Linked DNA regions of Homo sapiens: regions 1 and 3 are each linked to region 2. Evidence: fine-mapped expression QTL. A gene starts in region 2. Each other region holds a variant in brackets. All regions are shown on one strand. Distances are between the middles of the regions.

Evidence for each region. PIP is the estimated chance that this variant, and not a neighbour inherited with it, causes the effect.
Region 1: its variant is fine-mapped to the expression of CWF19L1 in whole blood (TOPMed, PIP above 0.99).
Region 3: its variant is fine-mapped to the expression of CWF19L1 in whole blood (INTERVAL, PIP above 0.99).

What each region holds. Positions count from the first base shown.
Region 1 is chr10:100,166,941-100,175,123 of GRCh38, forward strand. ERLIN1 (ER lipid raft associated 1) reads right to left here. Exons shown (of 11, transcript NM_006459.4): 6 at 7,268-7,341; 7 at 408-466. Among named protein-coding and RNA genes, the nearest start is that of ERLIN1, 15 kb to the right of the region's middle. The variant C/A (reference allele first, on the strand shown) is at 4,952.
Region 2 is chr10:100,263,636-100,271,818 of GRCh38, forward strand. CWF19L1 (CWF19 like cell cycle control factor 1) reads right to left here and starts at 4,003. Exons shown (of 14, transcript NM_018294.6): 1 at 3,936-4,003. The coding sequence starts at 3,958. RefSeq lists an enhancer at 1,734-1,983.
Region 3 is chr10:100,218,924-100,227,089 of GRCh38, forward strand. It overlaps CHUK (component of inhibitor of nuclear factor kappa B kinase complex), which reads right to left. Exons shown (of 21, transcript NM_001278.5): 2 at 7,000-7,094; 3 at 3,943-4,057; 4 at 3,189-3,258; 5 at 1,665-1,753; 6 at 347-436; 7 at 85-209. Among named protein-coding and RNA genes, the nearest start is that of CHUK, 6.6 kb to the right of the region's middle. The variant G/A (reference allele first, on the strand shown) is at 4,733.

The DNA.
Region 1 (8,183 bases), 97 kb before region 2:
TTTATACCAACAAGGTATCTATTCCTACCATTACAACACAGAAACAAAATATGAGCACTCTCTTCAACCCTAACGGCTTCAGGACTCTTTCCTCTATTAAATATTTAATTCAAGGTACTATTCATATAAAATTATAGCTCCTTAAGCTTCCAGCAATAGTTTTACAGCAAACTGCATCTTTAGCCACTGAAACTGCTCCTGAAATGTCCATACATAAAGAGAACACTAGTAAGAGTCTAGTGGGAATTAAGACACAAGAATAGGCAATATTACTAGAGTAAGAGTAAAGAAGATAAGACACATACTCCACCCCAGAGTGTATTGTCTCACATGTTTCCTCTAGACTGGAATATTAATATGCAGACAGCCCTAAACAGAAATATTGGGATCCCATGCATATTACTCACATTAACTCAAAATTTCTTCTTATGGCTTCTGGGATTTTGGGTTTTGTAACACGCACAGCCTAAAAAATAAAAGTGAAAAAGCCAAAGTATATTTGAAAGATAAATCTTCAAATTAAATCTTCTACAGAAAAGCCCCTCAAATGATACTAATCTAATAAACAACAGCTATAATATAGCGGCCTACTAACACGTTTGGGGATCCCACCAGAACATTTACTTTTCATGCCATCACACCAAGAATCAAAGACAAGCTGCTTCTTATTTCCTTACACAATGCCAGATTACAGGAAAAACCATCTACCCACTGAGGAAACAACTGCCTTATGAAAAAGGTTCTCACTTAAAAGATGTTTTACAAAGGTCGTTAGATACTTTTGCTTTCTTTTTCAACCCTGTAAACCAAAGAAGCCGGGAAGGCAAAGTTCCAAGACTGAAATTGTAAAGTCAGAAACAATTAGTCAAATACAAAAACAAACAAAAAAACCCAGGTTGGTGTATACAATTTAATACAGTGAGTAGTGAGTAAATTAATCTATCACTTCCAACCCCTGCAATCACTTGGTATTTGCTGTAAGTAAACAGCCCACTGGCTGAAGGAAAACAAATATCAATTAAAAGCTTATATTCTTTCTTCCTTAACTCTCACTTAGAACAAAGTCTGTCTTTGTAGAGGCTGTTTACCAGACACTTTGTTTCCCTAATCATAGTGTTCTTTGACACAATTAAGATTATCTACCTGGACAGTACTGTTTTTTGAAGGCTGACTTTTCTACATCAAGGACTTGATCTCTCAAAAGCTTTTGATTTTACTAAACATACGATACCCCGCCGCCCCACCTATACTGCAAACACACACAAAAAACACTTTGCTGGTCTGAAGAAGTTTTCCTTCTGAAAACTGGCTAACCTTTTAAGAATAACAAAGCCTTTAAGCACTTAGTCTTCTTTAAAGGCTTTTAAAACTTTTAAGCGATATAGCATTTCCTATATGAAATAGATGAGTCAAATTTGTAGGTAATTTTGAGGACAATCATAACTAAATATAAGGATTACAGTGGAATGGAATAAGCAGCTGAAGGCTGTGTGGAAAAAACTCACAACACACTGGCAGTGACACATGTGAGGCCTCACAACTCAGTGGAGACATGCAGAAGACAAATAAAAATTCAGGACCAGATTTTGTGAGATGTCAGATTTCACCATGTGACTAGCAGACATAAGATTACTTCCAATATGGATTAATATGATTCAAGGAAGCACTGTCATACTGCATTTAATTAAGAGACTGGCCACATATCTTTTTAGCCTTATTAAAAGAAGCGTAAAGTAGGACTTTTTTTTTTTTTTTTGAGATGGAGTTTTGCTCTTGTTACCCAGGCTGGAGTGCGGTGGTGCAATCTCAGTTCACTGCAACCTCCGCCTCCCAGGTTCAAGCGATTCTTCTGCCTCAGCCTCCTTAGTTGCTGGGATTACAGGCATGCGCCACCAAGCCCGACTAATTTTTGTATTGTTTTTTAGTAGAGACAGGGTTTCACTGTGTTGGTCAAGCTGGTCTCGAACTCCTGAACTCAGGTGATCCAACCACCTCGGCCTCCCAAAGTGCTGGGATTACAGGCGTGAGCCACCACACTCGGCCAGGACTGTCTTTTGAAGACTCCTATTTTGCTGAATGAGGCTGAAGAACATACTACATTGTGCTTGCCAATCTTGGGAAATCTCACAGATTTTCAAATATGTGAAAACATAAACACTTACTGTACAGATACCATGAGTAAGTTGCATCAAAAGAGATTTTAAAAGTAAAAGTGGGAAGTCCCACTCAGGCACCCCTCTCCCTCACAGGAGAGAGAGCTATTCTCCTTTCTGTTTCTTTTGCCTATTAAACCTCTGCTCTTAACCTCAAATAATAAAATAATGCCCCCATCCCACTCACATACATAGAGTGAATGGAGGAAAAAAATGGCTAATGAAAGGAATATATGTATTGAAACTGACCCCTGGGTTTTAAGCATATATTATATATCAAAAGCCAGTCTATAATATAGTCACTCCCTTAAATAACATAGGAAAAAAAAAATCAAAGATGACCATTTTCATCATTCTAATTTGCCAGAGTAGTTTTTCAAGAAGAAAAATGGTATATAAATATATGGAAAGGAAAAAAATATAATAGTGACTGTAAAAATAGTAACCCAAAAATTACTAGAAGGCAGTGAATTCAAGTTGTAGATATAAGATAAATCTACCAAGAATCAATCACATTCCTCAATGATTAAAAAAAAAAAAGACTACATATTGAACAGCATTAAAATTCATTAAATCCATTGGTATTAATTTAACTTAGGATATGAGTTTCTCCCCTAAATCAGAAATTCTAAAAACCAAAAAGGCTGATATGATAAAGTAAAGCCATAAACTATGTTTCTATTTTTAACTTATATTGGAGGATTGCATGAGGCCAGGAGTTTGAGACCAGCCTGGGCAACACGGCAAAGGCCCATCTCTACAAAAAATAAAAAAATTAGCCAGATGTGGGGGTGTGTACCTGTACTCCTAGCTACTTGGGAGGCTAAGGCAGGAGAATCACTTGAGCCCAGGAGTTCAAGGCTGCAGTGACCTATGATCATGCCACTGCACTCCAGCCTGGGCAACAGAGGGAGACCCTGTCTCAAAACAAAACAAAACAAAACAACATGTATATGACCACTTAGGTGCCTGATATAGCTTGAAAATATCGATAATGAAAACTCATCTGGAAGATTAAGCTGGCAGAAACAGCAAAGGCCATTATTTTTTAAAAGATGATGTCTCTTGCCAGATTTTAAAATAAAAAGTTGAATTATCACAACCATATGGTAATGTGTTAAAAATAACAAAGCTCAAAAACAGCCTTGAAATTCTTAAAATGCATTCCAACTATTGTAAAAAAAATTTTATAACAAGACAAAAGCAACCAAAGCAAAGGAGCTCTTCTCTTCTCAGGGTATGCTTAAGTTATTGCAAAATATAAAAATTATTTTAAAATTTTTTTAAACCCTAAAACAATGGAGATCTCTACCACTTTAAGAACGTATAACAAAACTACATTTTTTCAATCAATAACTTTTTATAAAAACAGCAAATAAATATAAGTAAATTCAAAAGATCCTTCTGGCTGTTGTGCAGAAAATGAAGTAGACAAAGGTAAAAGTGAAAGTGGGGAAAGAAGACAGGCGGCTACTGCTACTGCACATGTCAAGGTTAGAGTTGGTAGCTTGGCTTGAGATGACAGTGAAGATGGAGGTGTGGTCAGTTTTATTAATACATGGATTTTGGTGGTGGAATCTGCAGGACATAGGGACTGATTAGATGCTGAGGGTGAGGCGATTGTCAAAGATGCCTCCTACACTTCTAGATTGGCTTGAGGGGAAAGAGTTACCATTAACTGACAAGATGAAAAACACAGGAGAAAATTCGATTTGATGAGAAAAGACCAAGGACTCAATAACTAATGAAAGAGTAGGAATGGGAAGATCAATGGAACAGAACTAAGTTCAGAAAAAGACTCTAGTATATAATGGAATGCAGTATGTAACATAAAAACTATTTCAAAGAAGGGGGAAGATGGAAAAATAAACTATTCAGTAATTACCGCTGTTACCCAATTTGGGGTTGAGGGGATGGAGCTGAAGGCCTACCTTGCAACTGAGATCAAAATGGGTTGCAGATGAATTAAAAGATTTAAATCTAAGAATACAACTGTAAAAGCAGATACAATTTTTATAATTTCTAATTTTAATTGCTATACTTTTAAGGTGGTGAAAAGCTCTTAAAACATGCCAGCTCAGCAACACACCATAAAGACAAAATCACTGAAATTACTATGTAAAACATGAACACTTCAAAGTTATCAGCAAGGAAAAAACAAAGTTAAATGACAAAGAAAAAATTTGAAGAAAATGTTTCCTATAAATATAAAAAAGAGCTACAATAACTAACATATGAAAAAGTTTATTTTTAAAAACGAATTCTACCCCTCTCAAAGGGTAAGGTTCAAAAACAAGTTCTCTATATACAAATGCTATTTATTTATTTATTTATAGACAGGGTTTTGCTCTGTTGCCCAGACAAGAGTACAGCATGAACACAGTTCACTGCAGCCTCAACCTGCTGTGTTCAAGTCATCCTCCCACCTCAGCCTCCCAAGTAGCTGGGACTACAGGCACATGCCACCACACCTACCTAATTTTTTAAAAAAATTTTTTGTGGAGAAGGGGTCTCACTATGTTGTCCAAGCTGACCTCAAACTCCTGGGCTCAAGGGAGCTTTCCACCTCAGCCTCCTAAAGTGGTGGGATTACAGATGTGAGCCGCTATGCCCAGCCAAAAATAGCTTATTAAAATCAGTTAGAAAAACCATTAACTACAAAAATGAGCAAAACCAACAATTTATAAATGAAATAAAAACAGCTAATAACCTAGGGTATTCAACTTCAATAATTAACACAAAATAACAGACTAATTTTCTCCAAAAGGATTAAGAGAGAAAGGGAAAGCTTGCATCTG[C/A]TAATTATTTGGGTACAATCATGCAATCAAATGTGTAAGAACTACAGCTTACCAACACTGCTAATGAGGGGGGGAGCTGCTAAAATTTTTCTAAAAGGTGATTCGGTAGTATGTATCAATAAGCCCCCAAACAGGGCATACACTTTGATCATCAATCCCACTTCAAGAATTTATTGTAAGAGAGGGATTTAAAAAGATGTACAGAATATATAAGCTTGGTCATTCCAACATGCATACAGTAGTAAAAAATTTGAAACCATAGAGATTCACTAAATATAACCATTAAAAGTAATGATTTACCAAACCTATATTTTTGTTTTGGAAAGATGTTCATAGACAATGTTAGTGAAAAAAGCAAGTATGGTATGATTCTGCTTTAGTTGAGCATGTATGCATTTATATCTACAAACATTTGTTCATATACATTAAGAATAGTCGAGAAAGATATAACAAATGATGTTATCCCTGCATAATAAGATTACTGGTGAATTTCATTTTATTCTTCATCATTTTCCTAGTATCTAACTTTTTTCTACAACATAAATAACGTGTGTGTATAAAAATTCCAAATTTATACAGAACAAATCAGTAAGAAAGAAAACAATCCAACAGAAAAATGGGCAAAAGATATGAATAGGCAATCAGCAGAAGACAGTATAAATGACCAATAAATGTATCAAAAGATGTTCAACCTCATTAACAACCAAAGGAATGCAAATCAAAGGGAGATATAATTGCCCACCCATCCATATGGTAACAATCAGTATGTCTGATTGCTTCCAATGTTGGTGAGTTCATGGGTCACAATTATTTGCACATATTGCTGTTAAGAATGTACATTTGTACAGTCAGTTTGAAAGATAATTTGTACATACAAGAACATGTGTCATGAATGTTCATTACACTATTGTTTAATAGCAAAAAACTGGGAACAGAAAAATGGCTAAGTAATATAAGGCAAGGAATTCTAAACAACAGTTGAATGAGCTAGATCTCTGAGTAACACCCTGGGCAGAATCTAAGAGCTGACCTTCACATTCACTATCTTTAAAACTAAAAAGCTACTCCAGCTACAACTGACTTGAACAACTCAGAGGATTTTACAAAGTTACCTCTGGACATTTCAAACGACCCCTTAACTCTGGTGGCTCACCCTCAAGCGCCTGAGATAATGACATTGCATGAATGAGGCCATGAGGAAAACCCCACCTATCTTTCAGTCTTGTTTTTGAGAAGCACGAACACATACAATCACAGTGAGCGCACACTCTCAGTAGCAGTGGTGCTGAGTGTAAAGAATTGAGAGACATGTGATAAGCTTTAGTTGCAGTAATGTTCATCACAACAATCAACAATCAACTGGTCTCCTAGAGCTCCTGAGAAAGGACACTAGAGAAGCCTCAATATAACTTCTTAGGTCATCTGGATCCAGAGCAGTGGCTTTCGAATGTTACTGACAGTGGACACAGTAAGAAACACATTTTGCACTGACGTCCAATATAAACACCTACCCCGCCACACTGTGAAACACAAGTGTCACAGAATATTTAAACTTATTACATACCATTTCTTTTCCTATTCTATTCCATTTTATTTAAAATGCTGTTCATGACTCACTAAAGTTGATTTTACAACCCACAATCTGGAAAACACAGTGACCCAAAAAAAAGCAGGGGTAAAACCTCTCACCATTCTATTTCCCAACGTCACCATCACCACTACCACTAAATTCACCTGCTACCTTGTTTTTACTAGGGCTGTCCCTCCCACTTGAAATACCTTTCTCATTCTTCCCCCATTTAAATCCAATTAATTTTTCCAAACCTACTTAAAATCTCAACTCAATCACAGCCCTCTCCTAGACACACTGTCTTCCAATGTTCTCTTACTCTTACAGCAATAATCATTCAATAGATTCATCTGTCAATTAATACTTTGTGATAACTATTTTGTCCAGGATTGTTCAAATTTTACACTTGAACTCCCTTTTCATAATCTTACTGAGGGCAGGGATTATGCTTACACTGATTTATAACCATTACTGTATCTTAATGCTTCATACATGGCAGAAATATGAATTTTACTTCCTTGTAAGAGCCTCAGCTTATCAGTTCCCTCTAGGAGTTCACAAATGTCACCCATAGTAAGCTACAAGAGTATTTTATTTTGGCAGAGATCTAAAGTCAAATTGAGAAAGGTATTCTATAAATCACCATAGCATCTCAAATAATTGCTGAATAAAACAATCCAATGAAAGGAGGAACAAACTCAAAGCTCTCAAAATCCCCAGAGAACTTCCCTAGGAAAAGAACTTACCTGTATAGTGAGACCTGGGGCCATGAGGTTTAAGTCTTTCTGCAGAGCTTGCTTCAGGTTTTCATCTATTTGATCTGTTTTTTAAGCCAAGAACAACAGATCTCATGATAGTCAATTTTTTTTACATTGTATTCATAATGAAACAAAACTAATCATTATTAGACCTAAAGTTTCCACAGTACTATTCTTTTACAGAGCTTAAACTGCCTTTTCTTCCCTTTTGTGTGGGAAAAAAATTGCAAGGAATTATCTAATAAAGAAATTAAGGAACGAAGATGACAAGCAGATAGTCTGTTTATCCAATAAGTTTACCCACTAAATGTATTACTTAACTATGGATAAGCTTTTTTACTGGGTAACTTATTAGACTTATTTACTGGATAAACAACTACTGGGTAAAATATGTTGATCTAATAAATGGAGAATCTGGATCTCTAGTATCTTAATTCAGGGCTCTTACTCAATATGTATCCTCATTCTCAAAGAAAAACAAATTTCTATGTTCAGTAAATCTTTACTCAAATTCCCAAATAACTAAACTTCATTTCCATGGATCTCAGCCTCACTGTTATTTTGGATTTAAAGAGAGAGAGAGAGAGAGACAGAGAGAGAAGCTCATAGAAAAGTATTTGAAATATACACAGCATGAACACTTGGGCTTGTAACTATGCACTTTCTATTCACCTCAATGGTACTTTCGCTATTTAAATGACTGGTGGTGAGACAAAGCAGGACCCATCAGTTTCCTCACATGCCACTTCAGTGGTTGACAATCACCAAAGAGGACTCAATTGGTAGATTTTAAATTGATTACTCTTGCTTATTCCTTCATCTTAGAAATTCACTAAAAATTTCAGGAGGGAAAAGTGAGCTACCAACAGCAACAACTCATTCCCTGGTCAGAACTTCCACTATC
Region 2 (8,183 bases):
CCAGTTTATACATCACCAGGTGCCTCATCTCCTCATCTGGGCCCTTTTCCACTGTTCTCTATCCCACTGAATAAAGATAGAAATCTATGACCCAACAAGGCCAGCTCCTTTTCACTCACAATTAAACCATCACAAGCCTTGTTGATTTTACTTCCTTAATAAACCCTGAATCCCTAAACTATTCCTCTGTCATCACTCTACCTAATCCCAGCTGTTCTCTACTTTGGCTCTGATTTGTTCTCCACATTGCAGACAGAACTGCTTTCCAAAATGAAAATTTGATCATGCCAAAGCGTTCTTAAGCATTTCAATAACCTTTTTAGGTTAAAGACAAGAATACAGTTACGTGCCACATAACAATGTTTCGGTCAACAAGGGACCACATATGTAATGGTGGTCCCATAAGATTATAATGGAACTAAAAAATTCCTATCGCCTAGTGATGTCTAGCCATTTGTAACATCATAGTGCAATATATTACTCATTTGTTTGTGGTAATGCTGGTATAAACCTACTGGGCTGGTGGTTATAAAAAGTGTAGCACATACAGTTATGTACAGTATACAATATTTGATAATGATAATAAACAACTATGTTACTGGTTTATGTATAATATTTAGCATGCTATGGCCAGGTGCGGTGGCTTACGCCTGTAATCCCAGCACTTTGGGAGGCCAAGGCGAGCGGATCACAAGGTCAGGAGCTCGAGACCATCCTGGTTAACACAGTGAAACCTCATCTCTACTAAAAATACAAAAAATTAGCCGGGCGTGGTGGCGGGCGCCTGTAGTCCCAGCTACTCAGGAGGCTGAGGCGGGAGAATAGCATGAACCCACGAGGCAGAGCTTGCAGTGAGCTGAGATCGCGGCACTGCACTCCAGCCTGGGCAACAGAGCAAGACTCCATCTCAAAAAAAAAAAAATATATTCAGTATGGTATGCTCTTTACTGTTTAGAGTACACTCCTACGTATTCAAAAAAAAAAAAAAAAAGTTGACTGTAAAAAAGCCTCAGGCAGGTCCTTCAGGAAGTATTCCAGAGGGCACTGTTATCATAGGAGATGACAGCTTCATGCATGTTATTACTACTGAAGCCCTTCCAGTGGGACAAGATATGGAGGTGAACAGCAGTGATACTGATGATCCTGACCCTGTGTAGGCCTAGACTCGTGTGTGTGTCTTAGTTTGCAACAAAACAAGTTTAAAGCCAGGCACAGTGGCTCACGTCTGTAATCCCAGCACTTTGGGAGGCTGAGGCAGGAGGGTAACTTGAGCCCAGGAGTTCAAGACCAGCCTGGGTAACATAGCAAAACCCCCTCTCTACAAAAAATACAGAAATTAGCCAGGTGTGGTAGCTTCCGCCTGTAGTCCCAGCTACTCAGGAGGCTGAAGTGGGAGAATCACTTGAGCCCAGGAGGTTGAGGTTGCAGTGAGCCGTGATTGCACAATTGCACTCCAGCCTGGGCGACAGTGAGACCCTGTCTCCAAAAAAAAAAAAAGTTTAAAAGGTAAAAAGAAAAAAAAAGTAATAGAAAAAAGCTTGTAGAATAAGGATATAAAGAAAATATTTTTGTACAGCTGTACAATGTGTTTTATGTCTTAGCTGTGTTATAACAAGAGTCAAAAAGTGTAAAAAAACTTAAAGTTTATAAAGTAAAAGTTACAGTAAACTAAGGTTTACTGTTGAAAATAATATTTTAATAAATTTAATATAGGTGAAGTGTACAGTATTCATAAAGTCTACAATACTGTAAAGTAATACATTCACTCACCTCTTACTAACTCACTCAGAGAAACTTTCAGTTCTGCAAACTCCATTCATGATAAGTGTCCTACACAGGTTGTGCCCTTTTTTTTTTTCCTGTATACAGTATTTTCTTTTTTTCTTTTTCTTTTTTTTTTTTTTTGAGACAGTCTCGCTCTGTCGCCCAGGCTGGAGTGCAGTGGTGCGATCTCGGCTCACTGCAACCTCTGCCTCCCAGGCTCAAGCCATTCTCCTGCCTCAACCTCTTGAGTAGCTGGGATTACAGGCGCCCGCTACCACACCCGGCTAATTTTTGTATGTTTAGTAGACACAGGGTTTCACCATGTTGGCCAGGCTGGTCTTGAACTTCTGACCTCAGGTGATCCACCCACCTCGGCCTCCCAAAGTGTTGGGATTACAGGCATAAGCCACCACACCCGGCCAGGTGTTTTCACTGTACCCTTTCTATATTTAAATACAAAAATGCTTACCATTGTGTTACAATTGCCTACAGTATTCAGTACAGTAACTTGACGTACAGCTATACCATTTAGCCTAGGTGTACAGGAAGCCATACCATCTAGGTCTCTGGAAGTACACTCAAAGATGTTCGCACAATGACGAAATCGCCTACCAACTCATTTCTCAGAACATAACCCTGCTGTTAAGCAATGGATTACTCTTATTTCCCAAGGCTCAATCCTAACATTCTCGGGAAGCCTTCTTGACTCCTATCATTAAGCCAAATACCCCTCTTATGCACTCTCCCAGATTCACGAATATTTTCTTCCCAAAAGTTACCACTATTGCAATTTTTTTTTTTTTTTTTTTGAGACAGGGTTTCAATCTGTCACCCAGCCTGGAGATCAGCAGCACGATCACAGCTCACTGCAGCATCGACCTCCCCAGGCTCAGGTGGTCCACCTGCTTCAGCCTCCCAATTAGCTGGGACCACCACGCCCGGCTAATTTTTTTTTTTTTCTGTATTTTTTGTAGAAACGGGGCCTTGCTATATTGCCCAGGCTGGTCTTGAATTCCTGGACTCAAGTGATTCTCTTGCCTTGGCCTCCGGAGTCGCTGGGATTATAGGCGTGAGCCACTGCGCCTGGCCCTATCACTATGGTAACTTTACATTTATCTGAATTCCTTTTTTTTTAGACGGAGTCTCACTCTGTTACCTAGGCTGGAGTGCAGAGGTGCAGTGTCGGCTCACTGTGCAACCTCCGCCTCCGGGTTCAAGCGATTCTCCTGCCTCAGCCTCCCAAGTAGCTGGGATTACAGGCACGCGCCACCACGCCTGGCTAATTTTTTTTTTTTGTATTAGTAGAGACGGGGTGTCACCACGTTGGCCAGGCTGGTCTCGAACTCCTGACCGCAAGTGATCCGCCCGCCTCAGCCTCCCAAAGTGCTAGGATTACAGGCGTGAGCCACCGCGCCCGGCCATTATTTGTATTGTTTTTTGTTTGTTTTGTTTTGTTTTGTTTTGTTTTGAGAGTCTCGTTCTGTCGCCCAGGCTGGAGTGCAGTGGCGCGATCTCGGCTCACAGCAACCTCCGCCTCCCGGGTTCAAGCGATTCTCCTGCCTCAGCCACCGCGCCCGGCCCATTATCTGGATTCTTTAGTACCTGTTCCTCTAGACTCTACGCTCCATTAAAGCAGGAACTCCATCTGTTGCAACACCTAGCACAGCGTCCGGCACACTGCAGTTCTTCAATAAATACTTGCTGCATGAAGCCCTCTCTTCACCACCACCCCCACCCCTCCTCCTCGCAAAAAAAAAAAAAAAAAAAAAATGCCCCAGGGAAGGGTCCCTATCTACTCTGTCCACCACTGCCCAGGGCCCATCAGTGGGCCCAATGGCTATTTGGCGAGTAAATAAATGGGGTCAGGAGAAACGAAGGGGAAAGGATGTGTCAGAGGCCAGGACTGCCCCCTAAGATGGAGGAGGCCTAACTCTGGGAGCTTCCGCCTCTCCGAACGAGCGTCGCCAAGAGAAACCCCCTCAGAAGCGAAAAGGGCCAGGAAAAGAGGTCAGCCCCGGCCAGGCAAAGACATCACCTAAGCTCCCCAGCAGCCCCGTGTCTCTCCGCCTTTTCCTTCTCCCTTCCCGTCATGGGAAAGACTCCCGCCCGTGTCGTCACCTACACACACGAAAGAGACACAGGGAGAGAGGCTTCCATTCACGGTCACTCACAGGCGCAGCGGTTTCTGTGCCATCTGTCCGAATAGTATGGGTTGCGACTGCCACCTAAAATTGGGAATGCGAATCCGCGCTCCCCGGAAAAATGCGACCGCGCAACAATCAGACGTCAGCGCCCTCCAGCCAATAACGGTTCACTTACTTACGGAGACCGCCGAGGGACAGAAGCCTCTCTCAGGTGTTTGCGCCTCAAGGAAGAATCAAGAGGGAAAGGGAGGAACGAAGGGAGAAAGAGAAAGTGACCGAAAGGATTCCAACTATGATTTTTTAAATTAAATTTCAGAGCACTTGAAGCGAATGAATGGCTAGGAAGTACAGAGCACAATGTCGGGTTCTAACCTAACCTAACCTAACCTAACCTAACCTAACCATATCGGTCTAGTGGGCAAGACAGACCCCCTCTATCCACGTTTTTTGTAAGTTTTTAACCTATCAAAAAGTTAAGAGGCCGGGCGTGGACGCTCACGCCTATAATCCCAGCACTTTGGAAGGCTGAGGCGGGCGGATCACTTGAGGTCGGGCGTTCAAGACCAGCCTGGGCAACATGGTGAAACCCCGTCTCTTCTAAAAATACAAAAATTAGCCGGGCATGGTGGAGAATTGCTTCAACCAGGGAGGCGGGGGTTGCAGTGAGTCAAGATCGCGCCATTGCACTCCAGCCTGGACAACAAGAGCGAAACTCCGTCTCAAATTAAAAAAAAAAAAGTTAAAAGAATAATGGCTATTACCTTGATTCAGTAAGTCTCAGCATGTTGGCAAATTTGCTTGTGTTCTCTTTCTCTCAAAGTGCCCAAGCCCTTCCATTCTCACTCAATCATTTGAAAGTAAAGTACAGGCCGGGCGCAGTGGCTCACGCCTGTAATCCCAGCACTTTGGGAGATCCAGACCATCCTGGCTAACACGGTGAAACCCCCTCTCTACTAAAAATACAAAAAATTAGCCGGGCGTGGTGGCACGCACCTGCAGTCCCAGTTACTCGGGAGGCTGAGGCAGGGGAATCGCTTGAACCCAGGAGGAGGAAGTTGCAGTGAGCCGAGATCGCGCCACTTCACTCCAGCCTGGGCGACAGAGCGAGACTCCGTGTCAAAAAATAAAATAAAATAAAGTGCGGACAACAGGAATACATCTCCATTTATCTCCTAAGATTAGGATATCCTCCTACATAACCGTAATACTATTAACACAGCTAAGAAAATTAACATTAATTATTCAATAATATTACCTAATATACATCCATATTTAAAGTTCTCCATATTTCCCTACAAACTGATTTTATATTTGGGGCTTGTTTTGATTCAGATGCAATCAAGTTTCACACTTGCATTTGGTTCTGTCTCTATTTTAATCTACAAAAGCCCTCCTACCTATTTGGTTTTAGTTTTTGTAATATTGACTTTTTTGAAGGGTTCAGGCCAAGTGGTAGGAAACAAGTGTGTAAGGAAATGGAAACAAGAGAGAGTTCCTGACGACTGCGGGGAAAGGAAGACTCATCAAGGGCATCTAAATAATTCAAAATTAATAAAACATAAGATTAAAGAAGAACTACAGGCCAGGCACAGTGGCTCATGCCTGTAATCCCAGCACTTTGGGAGGCTGAGGCGGGAGGTTCACTTGAGAACAGGAGTTCAAGGCCAACCTGGGCAACATAGCCAGACCTCGTCTCTACTACAAATTTAAAAAGAAAAAAAAAAAAGTTAGCTGGGCATGGTGGCCGTATGCCTGTACTCCCAGGTACTCCAGAGGCTGAGGTGGGGAGATCACTTGAGCCCAGGAGATGGAGGCTTCAGCGAGCTATTACCTTGCCACTGCACTCCAGCCTGGGTGACACAGCAAGCCCTGTCTCAATAACCAAACAAAACTACAAAGTTCTGGCTTTTCCCACAGCCTACAAGCCTTCTTTTTTGTTTGTTTCTTGCCTCATAACTGGTGGCTCTGCTTTGCTGGCACATAAGCATGCATTTTTTCCTACTCTTTGGATAATACAGCACTGCCCAGGAGTAGCACTCAAGACTGAATCTTGAAGAAGAGTAGAAGTTTGCCAAACATGAGCAGGTAATAATTCCCAGAAGAGGATACAAAAGTAAGACATAAAAACTCATCGTATTGAAAAATCAAAAGACTCCACGAAAAAGACTGTTAGAAATAATAAACGAATTCAGTAAAAGTTTCAGGATACCAAATCAACATACAAAAATCAGTAGCATTTATATGCACCAACAGTAAACAATCTGAAAAAGAAATCAAAAAAGCAATCTCATTTACAACAGCTACAAAGAATATAAACTACGTAGGAATCAATTTAACTAAAGAAATGAAAGATCTATACAAGGAAAACTATACAATACTGATGAAAGAGGACACACACACAAAAAGGAAAGATATTCCACGCTTATGGATTAGAAGAATTAGGCGGGCAGATCACGAGGTCAGGAGATCGAGACCTTCCTGGCTAACACGGTGAAACCCCGTCTCTCCTAAAAATACAAAAAAATTAGCCAGGCGTGGTAGCGGGCGCCTGTAGTCCCAGGTACTCGGAAGGCTGAGGCAGCAGAATGGCATGAACCCGCGAGGCAGAGCTTGCAGTGAGCGGAGATCCAGCCACTGCACTCCAGCCTCTAGCCTGGGCAACAGAGCGAGACTCCGTCTCAAAAAAAAAAAAAAGAAAGAAAGAAAAAAGACAACACTACCTAAAGCAATTTACAGATTCAGTCCAATCCCCATCAAAATACAAATGGCATTCTCTAGATAGAGCAAGGATCCCCAACCCCCGGGCTATGGACCAGTACCCATCAGAAACCAGGACGCACAGCAGGAGGCGAGCGGTGGGCAAGTGAGAATAACCGCCTGAGCTCACTTCCTATCAGATTAGTGGTGGCATCAGATTCTTACAGAGGCTGGAACCCTATTGTGAACTGCACATGCGAGGGTTCTACGGCGCTGCGTACCTTACAAGAATCTGATGCCTGATGATCTGAGGTGGAACAGTTTCATCCCCAAACCATCCCCCCATCCCTACTTTCAGCTCTCTTTTTCTAATGTAAATGTCATGTACGAGCGTTTGTTTTTTTTGTTTTGTTTTGTTTTGTTTTTGTTTTTGTTTGAGACTGAGTCTCGCTCTGTCGCCCAGGCTGCAGTGCAGTGGCGCGATCTACGCTCACTGCAAGCTCCGCCTCCCGGGTTCACGCCATTCTCCTGCCTCAGCCTCCAGAGTAGCTGGGACTACAGGCACCCGCCACCATGCCTGGCTAATTTTGTTTTTGTATTTTTAGTAGAGACGAGTTTTCACCGTGTTAGCCAGGATGGTCTCGATTTCCTTGACCTCGTGATCCGCCCGCCTCGGCATCCCAAAGTGCTGGGATTACAGACGTGAGCCACCGCGCCCGGCCACAATAGTTTTATTTGACGTCAGGACTGTTTTGTAGACCGAGGTGTGATAGATGTGGCACGCACCAGCCACGGTTTCCACCGTCCCCAGAGCGTGGAGAGGCAGCGCCACTGCTCTCAAGGTTAATGACAACTCAATAAAGCACTGCTTTTATTTTTTGCAGTCTTCAATTTGAGAAAGGCCAGAAATAATGTTTTCAATAAATATGGTTCATACCATTAAAAAAAAAAATCCCCCCGCGTCCACGGAAAAATTGTCTTCCATAAAAGCGGTCCCTGGTGCCAAAAAGATTAGGGACTGCTGCTCTACAGAAATAGAAATAGAAAAAACAATCCTAAAATCTATATGGAACCACAAAAGACCCCAAAGAGCCAAAGCAATCCTGAGCAAAAAGCACAAAGCTGAAGGCATCATACTGCCCAACCTCAAAATCTACTACAAAGCTATGGTAACCCAATCAGTATGGTACTGACATAAAAATAGACACATAGACCAATGGAACATATATAAATCCATGCATTTACAGCCAACTCATTTTATGTCAATACCAAAAGTACAAAGGTGCCAAGAACATTCAATGAGGAAAGGACAGTCTCTTCAATAAATGATTCTTGGAGAACTGGATAGCCCTATACTGAAGAATGAAACTCAACTCTATCTCTCACCATATACAAAAATCGCATCAAAATGGATAAAGACTTAAACCTAACACATGAAACTATGAAGCTACCAGAAGAAAATACTGGAGAAATGTTCCAAGATATTGATCTGGGCAAAAATTTTTTGTATAAGACTTCAAAAGCACAGGCAACAAAAGCAAAAATAGACTAATAGGATTATATCAAACTAAAAAGCTC
Region 3 (8,166 bases), 45 kb before region 2:
AAACAATTAAAGAAAGAAAAAAAAAGACAAATGAAAAAATTTCCATTCCCATTAAGCATGCCCAAGTTCTCATCCATTTCTTACCAGGTAAATGGCTGCAGATGATGCAAAAAAGGCCTATATCCAGCAATACATTCAAATACCATGGTCCCAAAGCTCCAATAATCAACAGTGGCTGTGTAAGGCTTATTCTCAAAGAGCTCTGGGGCCTTCAAAAGAGAAAATGCTTTAAACACCAACACTGTATGGGAAAAGCTACTTTATTTTTGACCTACTATATTCATGATCTTCAGAAATAAGAGAATCCTATACACACTTAAATTCAAAGAAACAAAACAGGTCTCACCAGATACTGCAGTGTTCCCACAAAAGATGTACACAGACTTCCTTGATCAACATCTTTGGCATATCCCAGATCAATTATTTTATGTATTATCTGCAAAATAATAAGACAGATTAAGTATTAAATGGTAGAGAAATTTAAAAAGGAAAGACAACAATATCCTTACGAGGCTGTAGACAGGGTAGTGGTGAGGACCTTGGGCTCTGTAATAACACAAAAATATTTCAAGTCTGAGTGCCACCACTTAACTAGGCATGTGATCTACCAAGTTATTTAACCTCTCTCAGTAATCTAATTGGATGACTAACAGTCCCTGCTTCACAGAATTGTTATTAGGATCCAATGAAATAACGAAAGTAAAGAAGGTAACACAGTGCTTGGTACATGGTAAAAATTGAATACAGGTGGGCTATTAATTTTTATTTTACTATATTCAAAATAAGCTCAATCCATTAAACTGGAAAGTAAAGGCAAGGGTGACTTCCAAACTTGAAGAAGCATCATACCTCCTTATAGTAGATTAAATGTGAGTAAATACTTAGATCTAACTTCAGGAATGTCCTGAAGTCTTTGGATTAAAAAAAAAAAAAGCAGAGATATTTGGTGCCAAGCATACGTGAAAGGTTCCTAAGAGAAGAGGCATCACCAAGGTTCCAACACCTCCAAGAGGCCAACAACTATTTTCACTAACTAAAGAGACGGCACACACAACTCAACACAAGGTTCAGACTCTTGGCCTTTAAGTCTTTATTGGAATGAAATTTGGATGCTGGAAACAAGAAAACTGCTTAAGTTACCAATGAAATGAACATTTTAAGAGTCAATTCACAATTTCTGGTTCTTCTCCAGATGACTCATTTAAATTGGGGGAAGGAAAATAAGTTTTAAAAATATATATACTTTCTTTTTTTTCTTAAAGTGGACCCAGGATGTGCATGTATGTGTTTTGGATGTGCTTCATAAGAATAAAATAATAAGTGTTAACATATTATGTATTCACAGCCTGTATCTTTGCTAGATACTATGATGGAAAAACAGACTTGAACAAGACAGGTGAAGTCTAGGAGCTGGGTTAAGTATGAAAAATGAAAAAAAAGAAAAAGAAAAAAAAAGCAGGTGCTGTTCCTTCTCTGATGGAACCACTGTTTAGCAGAAGGGACAAAAAAACTAAACACAAAACTACAGTTCAGTGTGGTGAGGTCTGAAATGGAAAAAGTAAGACTGTTATGGGCATACAGCAAAGACACCAAAGCTCAAGGACTAACTATATCAGAGAGACTATATTCAATAGGCATGAAACATTACTTCAGGTTTCACCTACCTTTCCACCAACATCCTGAAGAACTATGTTTTCAGGTTTTAGATCTCGATGTATAATTTTGTTTTCATGCAAATATCGAATCCCAGACCCTAAATAAAGTTTAAAATATACTTTAAAGTAACAGAAATCATTGAGTTAAAAGAAAAATTCACCTCACATTTTGTACAAATCTACTCTGATGCTCAAGTTTATATGGATCATCGTAACTACACAACTAATACTACAGTGTCCAGGTTTTCTTCACAGAAAAAAAAGTAACATTAAACAAATACTACAAAATTATACTATATGTTCATTTAACTCATTAGAATTAACACCAAATAGAAATGCAACAAGCAATTGGGAAAATCCCTGAAACTCTTATAAGCCTCTTTCTCCCACCTAAATCACTCATTTCAATTGGACTTTAGCCCTCATGACCTTGGAAAAGAGGCAAAACCAAAATCTATGGGGAAACAAATTTTTGGTTTTTGAGGTTCCTCCAAAAGGTTAGGTACTGGTTATTTTAGGAATTTTTCTGGAGTCATTCTGATTAAGCAGAGATTTTTCACCCTGAAGAGTTGACTTGGCTGGGTGCGGTGGCTCACGCTTGTAATCCCAGCACTTTGGGAGGCCGAGGCGGGCAGATCACGAGGTCAGGAGTTTGAGACCAGCCTGGCCAACACAGTGAAACCCCGTCTCTGTTAAAAATACAAAAATTAGCCAGGTGTGATGGCGGGCACCTGTAATCCCAGCTACTCGGGAGGCTGAGGCAGGAGAATCGCTTGAACCTGGGAGGCAGAGGTTACAGTAAGCTGAGATCGCACCACTGCACTCCAGCCTGGGCAACAGAGCTAGACTCCGTCTCAAAACAAACAAACAAAAAAGAGTTGACTTGAGGACCCATCCCTCAAGGAGATGTAATTCCACTGTAAACAAAATTACTATGTCAATGGTAGGGGGGGAGAGAAATTGAGTAAGGTCATTTCACATGATTTTTTTGTCAGCTATTGGAACATCTATTAGACAAAAAAAGGACTCTTAGCCACAAATAAATAATAAAATATCCTAGTTTCTTTTTGTGTGTGTGTGACAAAGTCTCACTCTGTTGTCCAAGCTGGAGTGCAGTGGTGCAATCTCGGCTCACTGCAACCTCTATCTCCTGGGTTCAAGCGATTCTCCTGCCTCAGCCTCCCGAGTAGCTGGGACTACAGGCATGCGGCATTGTGCCCAGCTAATTTTTGTATTTTTAGTAGAGATGGGGTTTCACTATGTTGGCCAGGCTGGTCTTGAACTCCTGACCTTGTGATCCGCCTACCTTGGCCTCCCAAAGTGCTGGGATTACAGGCGTGAGCCACCGCACCTAGCCAAAATATCCTAGTTTTAATTTAGCATCAATAGTAATAGATTTTTATAACTTCTTATAGATGTTGAAATTCTATAGACTTTGTATAGTGTATCAACAATTCTCCTGAATTCCCAAAAAGATCTTTTATGGGCCAAAGGGACATTACATTACAATGGTATTTTAATACTGATACGTACCTATATCACTTAGTAAAGAAAGTATCTGGCTTTCTTTAAGTCCACAACAATTTTCTGGTTTGTTGAGCAGCTAAAAAAAGAAAGAAATCTAAAAATCTGTTCTGCAAATTGCTGGGCTGCAATAGTGACCACACATTAATTACTATACTCTAAAAGAATATTCAAATGAGAAAATAAGTCATAATAAAATACAAGGGAATAAAATTACCAAATCCATACTGAGGGCATGTAAATTTCATGATAAGGCTCATAAAAGTAAAAAGAGGCAAAAAGCATTTGAAACTGGAAAAGGCTGACAAATCTCATGGATATATATAAAAATGGTCATATGGGCACATTTAAAATTAGGTAGAAAAAAAAGATTGCAATACAGAAAACAACTTTTTATAAGCACCTTAACCACTGAAATTTTCATCTAACACCATTGCTATAGTCCCATCAAACAGCAACAACAAAAATGCATTTTCTAAATCAGGAGTCAACATTTTCTGTAAGGAACCATATGGTAAATACTTTAGGTTTTGCAAGTCACATAGTCTCTGTTAAAACTACTCACTTCTGCAGCCATAAGAAAGCAGCCATAGACAATGTGTAAAGAAATGAATGTGGCTGTGTTCCAATAAAACTTTATTTACAAAACAGGAAGCAGACCATAGTTTTTCCGATTCTTATTCTAGTTTATTATATTTAACATGATTCAAACATTGCTAAAGTTTGTGATTTACTCTCTCTCATCTCAAAACATCCACACTACCTTTCGGAGATCTCCTCCAGAACAGTATTCCATTGCTAGAAGAGGCACATCATGAATCAAAATATTCAATTCTTCAGGAACATCACAGGCCTTTACAACATTGGCATGGTTCAACCTAATAAGAAAGAAAAACATTACAATAAAAAAAATTATTTCCAATAAAAAGGGACTGGATTTGAAATGCTACTTAATTGTGGGTGGATGAACAGAGGGGGAAAGATCAGTATTATTTATAATATTCTAATTTCTGATTTGTATAATTAAAAATTAGTAATTTTTTAAAAGAAAACACACATAAAAATACCATCACTATTACTACTATTACATTTCTAAGTGCCAAGCAGTAAACATTTTAAATATATTAACTCAGTTACTTGTCACAATAATCCTATTATAGGTAGATTTATTAATACTTTCACCACACAGGAGAAAATTGAAGCACAAATTGGCTAAGTAACAAGATCACACAGTGAGTAAGTCAAATCTGGCGTTCTAGGCTGGGTGTAGTTGTAACTGTAATCCCAACAATTTGGGAGGCTGAGGTGGGAGGATTGCTTGAGGCCAGGAGTTCGAGATCAGCATGGGTAACACAGTGAGACCTCATCTCTACAAAAAATTAAAAATTAGCCGGGTGTGGTGGCGCATGCCTATAGTCCCAGCTACTCCAGAGGCTGAGGTGGGAGGACTGCTTGAGCCCAGGAGTTCAAGTCAAGCCTGGGTAACATAGCAAGACCACATCTCTTTTAAAAAAAAAAAGAAAAAAAGAAAAAGAAGCAAACAGAATTTCCAT[G/A]TACATGTAGGACCTGATAATTTATACTATTAAGCTTTCCTGGTGATTCTGCCACATAACCAAGTTTGAGAATCAAAATGGAATTAAGCACAGATATTAGAGTCAGAAAGTATTTATTTCAAATCCACACTTTACCAACCACCAGCTATGTGATTCTATAAGCTTCAACTTCCTCATTTGCAAAATAATACCTAAATATAAGATTGCTGTGATAACTGGAAGAATGATCTGTAAAGTACTTAGCACACTACCTGTGGAAGTTTTAAAATATGTCTACTTCTCTTTTTAAGAGCTTAACTCTCCTCCCCTTGAATGTAGGCTGTACTTAGTGACTCACTGTAACAAACAGAATGTGGTGGAAAAGGATGGAGTCTCACTTCCAAGTAAAGATCATAAAAGATACGTCGGTTTTCATCTTGCTCGCTCGTTCACTCTCTCTCTCTCTCTCTCTCTCTCAGATCACTCACTCTTTCTGAGGAAAAGATCTTTCTGGGGAAAGCTAGCTTCCATGTCATGAAAACATTCAAGCTTCCCCATGAAGAGGCCCACATGGCGAAGAACTGATGCTTTTGGCCAACATTCATATAAGTGAGCATGGAAGCAGATACTCCAGCCCCAGTCAAGCCTTTGGATTACTGCAGCTCCGACCAATATCCTGAGATGTCTCAGGAAAGACTCTAAGCTAGAATCACCCAGCTAAGCCACTCCCAAATTCCTAAGTCACAGAAACTATAAGATACTAAATGTTTGCTATTTTAAGCCACTAAATGTTGGGGTAATTTATTTTTTATTATTTATTTATTTATTTAGAGACGGAGTCGCCCAGGCTGGAGTGCAGTGGTATGATCTCAGCTTACCGCAACCTCCGCCTCCCGGGTTCAAGCAATTCTCCTCCCTCGGCCTCCCAAGTAGCTGGGATTACAGGCACCCGCCACCACACCTGGCTAATTTTTGTATTTTTAGTAGAGATGGGGTTTTGCCATGTTGACCGGGCTGGTCTCAAACTCCTGACCTCAGGTAATCCATCCGCCTTGGCCTCCCAAAGTGCTGGGATTATAGGTGTGAGCCACCACGCCCGGCCCTAGCTGACTTTTGTTAACTGAAATGAAATAGTTTTTTGATTGTGGTAAAACACACATAGCATAAAATTTACCACCTTAACCATTTTTAAGTGTACAGTTTAGTGGCATCAAGATGCTTTCCTTTTTTTTCAGACAGGGTCTTGCTCTTGTCACCCAGGCTGGAGTACAGTGGTATGATCTCAGCTCACTGTAGCCTTGACCTCCTGGGCTCAAGCAATCTTCCCACCTCAGCCTCCCAAGTAACTGGGACTACGGGCATGCACCACCACACATAGCTAGTTTTTATATTTTTTGTAGAGATGGGGTTTTGCCATGTTGCCCAGGCTGGTCTCGAACTCCTGAGCTCAAGCAATCCACCCACCTCAGCCTCTCAAAGTGTTGGAATTACAGTGTGAGCCAACATGCCCAGCCTGGCATCAAATACTTTCACAATGTTTTGCTACTATCACTATACTGCACAAAACTGTTTAATTCTGCAAAGCTGAAACTCCGCACCTATTAAAAATTATTCTCTATTTGCTGGTCCCTTCACCCTCTGGCAAACACCATTCTACTTTCTTTCACTGTGAGTTTGACTACTCTAGGTACCACACATAAGTGGAATGACACAGTATTTGTCTTTTTGTGACTGGCTTATTTCATTTAGCATAATGTCCACAAGATTCATCCATGCTGTGGCATGTGTCAGAGTTTCATTCCTTTTTAAGGCTGCATGATATTCCGTTTCATGAATATACCACATTTTGTTTATACATGTCTCTGCTGGTAGATACTGGGTTGCTTTTACCTTTCAGCTATTGTGAATAATAATGTTATGAATATGAGTGTACAAATTACTCTTTAAGTCCCTGCTTTCAATTCATTTTTGTATATACCCAGAAATGGAATTGCTGGATCATATGGTAATTCTATTTTTAATTTTTTAGGAATCACCGTACTGTTTTCCGTAACAGTTGCACAATTTTACATTCCCACCAACAGTGTGTAAGTGTCCTAGCTGATTTTAACTAAACCTTCTTAATCTTAATGTGATATTATTATTTGAAATAGAATATATTTAATGAGAGAAAAAAATATATGTTCCCAAAAAGATCCTGAGAAGAGTGGATTCCTGGCCTCTTTCCCCATGATGACATCTGGTTGGGCTGTAGAACCAGGGAAATGTAAGTCAAGGAATACACTTACTTCTTCATAATCTGGATTTCATGGCACCATCGTTCTCTGTTTTTGGTACTTAGCTCTAGGCGACAAGACTTAATTGCTATTTTGAGATCAAGTTCCTGCCAAAATAGAAAATCAACAGAAAAAAAAAATTAGGTTCTTGTGAAGATTTATTTGCTACCAAAGAAATAACTTAAGACAACAAAACTTTTTAGCTTTACTAATTAAATATATTTATCCACAGCTCTCTTGAGGCAATGCTTTTTAAAAAGATAAACCATGAGACTATTACACCAATGCTTTAAAACTGACCTTCAAACACACAACAGCATACAAGGGAAAAGTGCCTGAAACTGATTTTATAACAGGTCTTTTCAGAACTCTCTCTCATATATAATGTTAGAAAAAAAAAGATCCTGTCTCCTCAGCAAACCCCTTTCAGAGCTTAATCAAGACAACTAATATGTGCCCCAGCTTCTAGCATAACTAAAATGAAGAAGGTAATTCAGGGCTTCCTGGACTCCAAACAGCAAGAGAAAGTTTTAATATAACCAAGCCTAAAGCAAAAAACTCCAATCCTAATGTATGCATTTCAAATGACATGAAGAAAAAAAATCCTACCAATGAGTGTACTTCTGCTTCCATAGCTACATAATGAACCTAACATCTCTTGCCTGTGACTAGTAATTTAGCCAATTCTGACTGAAATTAAACCCATTCTGATGCATATTACAGGAAATAGCCAGACCCCATCATATTCTGGCAACATTAATAATGCAGCTCAGAAATAGCAGTCAGGGCTAAACAGGCTACACTATGTTTCTGATATCACAAGGAGAGTTCAAAAGAATTTCCAACATATGTAATCTCTGACACAAACCAGAGTTGTAATAAAGGCTGTGTATGAATACAGAGAGAAGAGCCCAGGGGCCAGGACAGAAAAAATATATTATAGGTGGGGAAGCAAGACATAGCTTGGATAGGGTAGTGTGAATTGGAGGGTGAGAGGAAAAAAGAAGCTAGAGATAAGATGATACCTGGTGCATAGAGAAGAAGGAAACTAGGATAGACTGCATGCTAGCCTACCCACAGTTCTCACTCCCTTCAATCTTCCTTTTGTTATGAGCAGGTGACCAGTTATATCTATGTCCCATGCAGGCCTTTACCACCATGGAAATGAGAATCAGGCAC